Homo sapiens: one gene and its partner. The protein of the gene in region 1 interacts with the protein of each later gene in a pairwise test. Each region holds a gene or a part of one and is shown on either strand. Other genes may lie near its edges. The genes, in order: KLHL8 and PPM1F.

Evidence for each region.
Region 2: the proteins of KLHL8 (region 1) and PPM1F interact in a two-hybrid assay, tested with the Homo sapiens proteins (one large-scale study listed by BioGRID).

What each region holds. Positions count from the first base shown.
Region 1 is NC_000004.12:87,185,928-87,189,745, reverse strand, and holds part of KLHL8 (kelch-like protein 8), read left to right. Parts: intron 1-3,818. UniProt on the Homo sapiens protein: Substrate-specific adapter of a BCR (BTB-CUL3-RBX1) E3 ubiquitin ligase complex required for The BCR(KLHL8) ubiquitin ligase complex mediates ubiquitination and degradation of RAPSN.
Region 2 is NC_000022.11:21,946,163-21,949,980, reverse strand, and holds part of PPM1F (protein phosphatase 1F), read left to right. Parts: intron 1-3,818. UniProt on the Homo sapiens protein: Dephosphorylates and concomitantly deactivates CaM-kinase II activated upon autophosphorylation, and CaM-kinases IV and I activated upon phosphorylation by CaM-kinase kinase. Promotes apoptosis.

The DNA of each region.
Region 1 (3,818 bases):
CTTTACTAAACTTTTTTAAGTGAAGTGGAGATAGTTTACAAAATAAATGTTAACTCTTTTTTTTTTCAATAGCAACAAAAGCACAGATTTATTGAAATGAAAGTACACTCCACAGAGTGGGAGCGGGCTCGAGCAAGTGGCACTCGAGCCATGATGAAGTCCTAACTAGTGGAGTTAGGAATGCTTTGTATGTTGATAGTCAAGTGCTTTACTAATCCAAAAGCCTTATTTTCATTGTATTTCCATTCATATTGGCTAATCTCTGGAAAATTACTCAAAGTTTTTATTAATAGTTGGTATTTCAAGCTTTTTAAACAAAAGTCTAAGGAATCATTTAATGAATGTTGATATTCTACATATTTTAATACTGAAGTGTGACATGATTTTTCCCTGAGTACTGTTAAGTTTAGCCTGAAGCTCCCACCTTATGTATTTTAAACTTGGCCTAAAAGTTTCTCTGTACACAGTAAACTGTAACCTAACTGGTTGTGTAAACAGACTGCAACCTACTCTTGTGCTAATCACTGAGGTTCAGCCAATTAAAGGCAACCAGTTGTTCAACCTGTGTTCAAGTAAGGCTGACCCTGAGCTGTAACTGACCCGTCTGTTTCTGTACCTCACTTCCGTTTTCTGTGTGTCACCTTCCTTTTTCTGTCCGTAAATAATTTTCGACTATGCACCAGCACCAGTGTCTTTGAACCTATTCTTGTTCCAGGACTGCCCAATTCTTGAATCCGTCTTTGCTCAGTTAAACTCCGTTAAATTTAATTGTCTAAGGTTTTTCTTTCGTAATACTATCTTGAATTAGTCACACGTTCACTGATCTAACAAAGAAAGAATGTAAATTAGAAAATTAAGTAGTATCAGGGACATATAGTATTTATATAATTCTAAATACACGGTAATGTCTAATATTATGTAGCTTGTGTGTTTTTCATCCAATTTTAAACATCAGGTCTTTAGACTTTGATTCCTTTCATTTTCAAATTTCTAATGAAATGATTTTGGTAATTGGTAATTATTTTTTTGTACCAGAGAAAGAAAATGTACAAATAAACTTTCAGGAATGTAATTAACTATATAACATCAAAGGAGAATCAGTGCATTAAAAAGCCAAATTTTTGGCTGTTCCTATTTATACATGTGGCTTAAAGATCTTTATAAAATAAAGATGGATATTTATTCTAAAAGGGTACATAGGGGTGTATGTGTTAAATAGCCACATTTTAGTTTGTTTGAATCAAGACTCAAATGGAATTGTAAAGGGACAGAATCTTATTAAAAACAACATGAAAATGACTTGCCGGCCATTGATTTGTACAGCTTGGATGGCAAGTGTTAAAATAATGGTTATCTAGAAATTGTAGAACCCTATTTTATGATACTATTATGTAAGAGAGTGTTGGCAAGTTATTTAATGGAGCAGGTTTAAGTCATGTGAGACTTACAAATATTTGCATAGAAACTGAATCCCAGTGGTGGCATGTGGAAATAATTTTTTAAAGGATATGCTTAGGCTATTTAAAAGTTATTTAGTATCAGATTTCAGATCCCATTTTAGAGCTGACGTGAATTTGAAAACATGCCAAGCTTTATGTTATAGTCTACATTACAACTTTAGTCTCAATGGAATCTAAATACTGCCTTGTGAGTTCTGTGAAAAAATTTAATATAGCATAACAGACAGAAATGATTGTCTTGTACTTTCTGAAATAAGTGATACTGCTTCTTCCTCCACATTAGTGAAAAAAGACTGAGGAAGGGGCTTTTATAAGCAAAACCATTTATACATTTGAACACTCTAGGAGTTGTCATTTTAAAATTAGTTCTCAAATAATGAGATACAACTGTTTATTATATAATCAAAACACTACATGAAAACAGGAAAACTGTTAAAATAGTACTATAACTGTTACTTGTATTTGATTATTATAAACTCCTGGGAAAATGGGATAAATACTGTATTAAAAAGAAGATATCTTCCCACTCAGTACCAAAAACTTCCAGATGTAAGTAAAAATTTAAGTGTAAAACATAAAACCATAAAAGTAGTATAAAAAATACGTGAAGTAAATATAGAATATTAGAATGATTCCCATTTCTAGCAGGTACCTAAAACAATAAATAAAAAGACTTCATTTAATTACATAAAAATCCATAGGGTTTTTATATAAGAGAATAAAATTTGAAAGCAAACTAAAAGAGAAGTTTGAAATATATATGACAAATGCCTAATACTCTGATTATATGATGAGTACTTATAAATAAAAAATTTGTAGTTCATAGAAGAAATACAAATAGCTCAAAATTTATAAATGATTCAATCTTAAGAGCAAAAAAGAAAAAAAAAGATGAGATCTTTTTATTCATCAAATTGGCAACTATGGCCGGGCACAATGGCTCACACCTATAATCTTAGCACTTTTGGAGGCCGAGGCGGGAGGATTGCATGAGCTTAGGAGTTTGAGATCAACCTGGGCAGCATAGACTTTGTACAACAACAACAACAATAACAACACTCAAGATATGGTGCAAATACTGTAAGAAGCTCAGAAATGGACAGTTTGACATTATGTATTCACATATTCACATTGTATCCTTTGAAGCAGCATCTCTACTTACAATAATTTATCTGTTGGAATAATAGAGAATGTGAATAACGATTTAGTTACAAAGAAGTTCACTAGTGTGCTATTTGTAATAGCATACTGTTGGAAGCTATCTGATTTTTCAATAATTAAGGTGATGAGATTGCAGTGTTTTTTTTTTACTGCTTTTATGTGAGCTATATCATTTCAAGATAATGTAAATAGAAAATAAAAAAAAACCTCAGTTGAGCTCATAGTAAATACTACTAAATATTTACTCTCTGCTCCAGTTTTCTGATTGATAAATTGTGGATAATAATAGTACTTACTCATAGGGATGTTGGGACAACTGAGTTAGTATATGAAAAGCACTTAGAAGGCCAGGCTCTGTGGCTCATGCCTGTAATCCTAGCACTTTGGGAGGCCAAAGTGCGTGAATCACTTGAGCCCAGGAGTTTGAGACCAGCCTGGGCAGCATGGCAAAACCCTGTCCCTACTGAAAAATACAAAAATTAGCTGGGTGTGGTGGCACATGCCTGTAGTCCTAGCTGCTGGGGAGGCTAAGTTGGGGGATTGCTCGAGCCCAGCAGGTTGAGGCTGCAATGAGCCATGATCACGTCACTGCACTCCAGCCTGGGCAACAGGGTGAGACCCTATTTCAAAAAAAAAAAAAAAAGCACTTACAATAGTGGTTGGCATGTAATGAGTGCTAACTGATGTTTGCTGGTATTAATTCACAAAATGTCCCTGAAATATAACATAGAAAATCATGGTTTGTTGTGTGTATGTTACAGATACATATATAAAAGAGGCCGAGTGTGGTGGCTCACACTGGTAATCCCAGCACTTTGGGAGGCTGAGGCAGGTGAATCAGTTGAGGCCAGGAGTTCAAGACCAACCTGGCCAACGTGGTGAAACCCTGTCTCTACTGAAAAAACAAAACCCACAAAAATTAGCCAGGCGTGGTGGTGCACGCCTGTAATCCCAACTACTTGGTAGGCTGAGGCAGGAGAATTGCTTAAACCCAGGAGGCAGAGGTTGCAGTGAGCTGAGATTGCGCCGCTGCTCTCCAGCCTGGGCAACAGAGCAAGGCCTTGTCTCAAAAAAAAAAATTTTTTTTTAATTTTAAAGTATGTGTATATATATATATGAATATGATATGTGGTTAATTTGGAATATGAAAATTACCTGACTTTAAGAAACTGGCCTACTTGAAAGTAAGTGATCAAA
Region 2 (3,818 bases), on another chromosome or scaffold:
AAGCCATCCCAGGAAGAGTGCTCAGAGCAGGGGCGGATGGCAGCTGGCAGCACCGTCAGCCACACCCCTGCAGCTGCCCCCCGATGAGTTTGCTTTGCCATTTCTCACCTATGTGGGACCTTAAATAGGTTCTAGGAGGGTGAGCACCCATTTGGTGTGCAGTGGGGCCCTGATCCAGGAGGAACCAGCTGCCAGTCGCATTTGGTCAGACTGGTCCAGGCAGGCGGTGCTGGGATGCAGGAGTCCAATGTCCCTCCCATGCCCACCCCGGGCTCTTGGTGATTTGCACAGGCTCATGCACACGTCCCTCTTATTCGGAGTTTTTCACTGGTGTGCCCTGCTCAGGAAAGCCCAGCACCAGGCTCCGCTGCCTCTGGTGCTCTCCCAGCTCTCCCTACTCCCTGCGGCTTGCCGCTGGCCTCCATGCCATTCCTGATGCTGTCTCTTCCAGTTGATCCCTCAAAGAACCACAGCACTGTCCCCTGCCCCTCCAGGCACTCCCAGGGCTGCCTCTGGTTTCCCTTGGTGAGGAATTTCTCCTTCCTGCCGGGTGTGCCATGGTGTACGTCAGATTCAGGAGCTTATTGGGAAAAGGAAGGAAATGATTCCTGTCCCTTTCGACATCTGGGCTCCAGGGAGAGAAAGCTGTGTCCTGGTTTCTCTCCTCACCCCTTGCCTTAGGTTGGTGATGCAGAAACAAGGGTGCTTGGTCCCCAGCAAGTAAGATGGCCCTGGGCACCCTGCCTTTGTAACAAGAGCAGGCAGTTGGCACAGGCCCTGAGAGTAAGCCAGCCTGTCCCCTCTACAGATGCAGACAGAGCTTCACACACACACATCATCACACCCCCCAGACCTTACTTAGTACACATGGCACAGACACCATTGAGGCATGTGCAGATAGTGGGCACAAGGCACAGAGAGAGCAGGCAGGTGGCCACAGTGAATCAGGGTCTGTAGTGCAGACAGGAGGAGCCACCCTCCCTGAGGGAACAGGCCGATTGTGGGGAGGGGCTCACGGCACAGGAAAGAGTACCCCAAGGTCAGGAGGCAAGAAGGAGGCACCTGCATCCCAAAAGGTCCAGCAGACGTCACCAGCAAATGGGGTGGAAGTGAAGGGTCTTGAATTCTGCCCTTGACAGTGGGGCTTTACACTGTGGGCAGGGGTTTCTCCAGGGGGGCCCTCTGTGTGCTCTAGCGGGGAGCATGCTGTCCTCTCACTTGGATCCTAATCATAAATTCACATGAGCACATTTTGTGGTGAGACAGTAGAGCCTCCAGATCACTTGGAATTGCAAGGGAGTGGGAGGAGGCCCCAGGCACTGGCAGTTGCTGGGGGCAGCTCTGCATCGTTCACATTCTCCCAGAAGCTCCAGGGGCCAGGGCAGTCCCAGGCAGAAGAGGGGCCCTTGGCCGCTTGCACTGCTTGAGGGCAGCCAAGCTTGCTGGGAAATTCACGCCATCTTCGAATGCCTTACAGCTCTGCTGGGGCATGGCTGGCAGGACGTGCCGCCTCCTCATTGACCTACTAGGGCTCCCAGCCTCTGCTCATTTCTCCAGCTCACAGTCTTCCCTTTGTCGTTTGAATGTCAGTGTCCCTCCTGCTCTCAAAGTGATTTTTCCTTTTTTGCTTTATGTTCTTTTTTTTTCTTTTTTGGTAGAGATGGGGGGTGGGGGGGGGGTGGCGATCTCACTGCCCAGGCTGGTCTTGAACTCCTGGCCTCAAGCACTCCTCCTGCCTCACCCTCCCCAAGCGCTGAGATATAGACCTGAGCCACAGCGCCTTGCCAGTTGTTTTATGTTCTTTATCCTTTTACCTGCTTGCCTTCTGTAACCTGGGTTGCATTAAATTTACTCCTACTTGTGAGTAAATGTGAACCATAGCAATAAATTTAGTCTATCCCCAGAACCTTCAGTAGCAAGCACCCCTATTCCTACGTTATTTGTATGTGTCCACTTTAAATAAATTACCTTTCAATTCTGCCTCTAAAAGAAGAGAAGGGTTTTGTGTTTTGTTAATTTACCACCCTTCACCCCTTGCATTCCAAATCCCTCACTGATCAGACATTTAACTTGGTGCTGGGACCTTTCCCTCTGCCCACCCCATTCTCTTTTGTGTTTTTTATCTTTAGGCTTCCAGAAGGCTTGTTCCAAGTTAGCAATTCCTGATAAGGACAGCCCTCTTGTGGGCTGTGAGCTCCCTGCATCTCTTACTTCCCACTCTCTTCATCCTGCACCTCAGGCCCCTGCCACAGCCGCCCTTTTAGCAAAGTTTGTAGGCAGAGTCTGTGGCTATTCTAAGACTGATGATTCTAGAAGATTCTCCTTGCCTTCTTCGTTCAGTTTTCAGAACCTGGAAGTCCTCATGAAGGTGATGGGCTGTGAAACTGTTCCCCAAATTCTCCACCCTAGAACTCGGGGTGTTCCTCAGAGTCTCATGTCCGTTTGTCACCATAAAAGAATGCAGTTTTTCTCCCTGGCTTAGTAACTGTGTAGGATTTCTTTTTTATTTTTTTCTGGATCCAATCTCATCCACTACTGCGTAGGACTCGCTGAATAAAGTTTCCCAGCCTGAGTGTTAGACAAAGCCCAAGGTGGAGTCCCCGCTGTGGGGAGGGTTTGGAGGGGTCAGGCACCCGAGAGGAAGGGGGCAGGAGAGAGAAGGGTCCATGCTGAGTGGGTGCTGGCAGGGAGGCCCAGGTGTGGGGCCTGGAGGTGAATCCCCGGGGCGACGCAAAGAACATGGAAGGGGGGGCGCTGGAGAGCTGTTTGGGTATAGGCAAGGCAGGCAGGCTGGGGAGGCGACTATGGAGATTCGGAGTTAGGAGAGAAGAGGAGCCAGAGCCACCCTGGGAGGAGGCTGTGAGGCACCATGTGCCTCTTTCCAGTGAGAGAGAAGCCGGTGAGGGAGTGAAGGCACAGGCTTTGCGATCCCTCTTTGGCCCTGTCTTCCTTCTGACACCTCAGGCGAGGGACTAACCCTCTCCAAACCTTGGGATTCTCATCTGTGAAATGGGGGCTTGTCCTGGCTCCTGGGGTGTTAGGGGCAACTCCCAGGGCTGGTCAGCTCTGGTCATCCCTAAGGACTTAGGGAGGAAGAGCCCACATGCCGCACAGTGGGGTCAGCGCCTGGAACTGTCCACAGTGCCCCTCTTCCAGCCAGGGCTTAGCAGGCCTGAGCCATTCTAGGCTCACAATTCCCTCCTCCTATTAGAGAGCATTGAATAGGCTCGATGGTGTCCCACAGCACCTCCTGTCTGTCCCAGATTAAACCTCTGCTTCTCTCCTGGCCACCCCTTGGGTGGCCCCAGCAGCCTCTGGGGATCCCTTCCTGCTCCCACTCTGGCCTATCTCCAAAACAGCCCTGGGCCGGCCTCCCGCATCTTGGCCCTTCTCTTTCCTCCCCTGAACACCACTAGAGCCCCAACAGGTGTCCCTCCTGCCATCTGGTCACCACGTCCAGGCTCACAGACCTGGTGGCTTCACTCCCTCACCTCAGAGCCCTCCTGGCTGCTCGGGACCCGTGATCAGGTTGAACCCCCTCACCTACCTCAGTGCCTGGCCTCGGCATCCCTGTCCTGCTCGTCTCTGGCCACGCTGGCCACCCTCTGCCAGGAACAGTCTTCCTCCTCTGTCACTTCTTGACAATGTCCACCCAGCTGCTGCTCCTGGCACCATCTCCTGAGACCGGATCTCTGGATGCCCACAAGTCCCCACCTGGACTCATGTCAAAACAGTGGCCAGGGTTGTCCCTCCACCCTCTAGTGGCCCTGAACCATGAGGCCATGCACCTGCCACATGGTGCTTGCAGGTGGGCACCT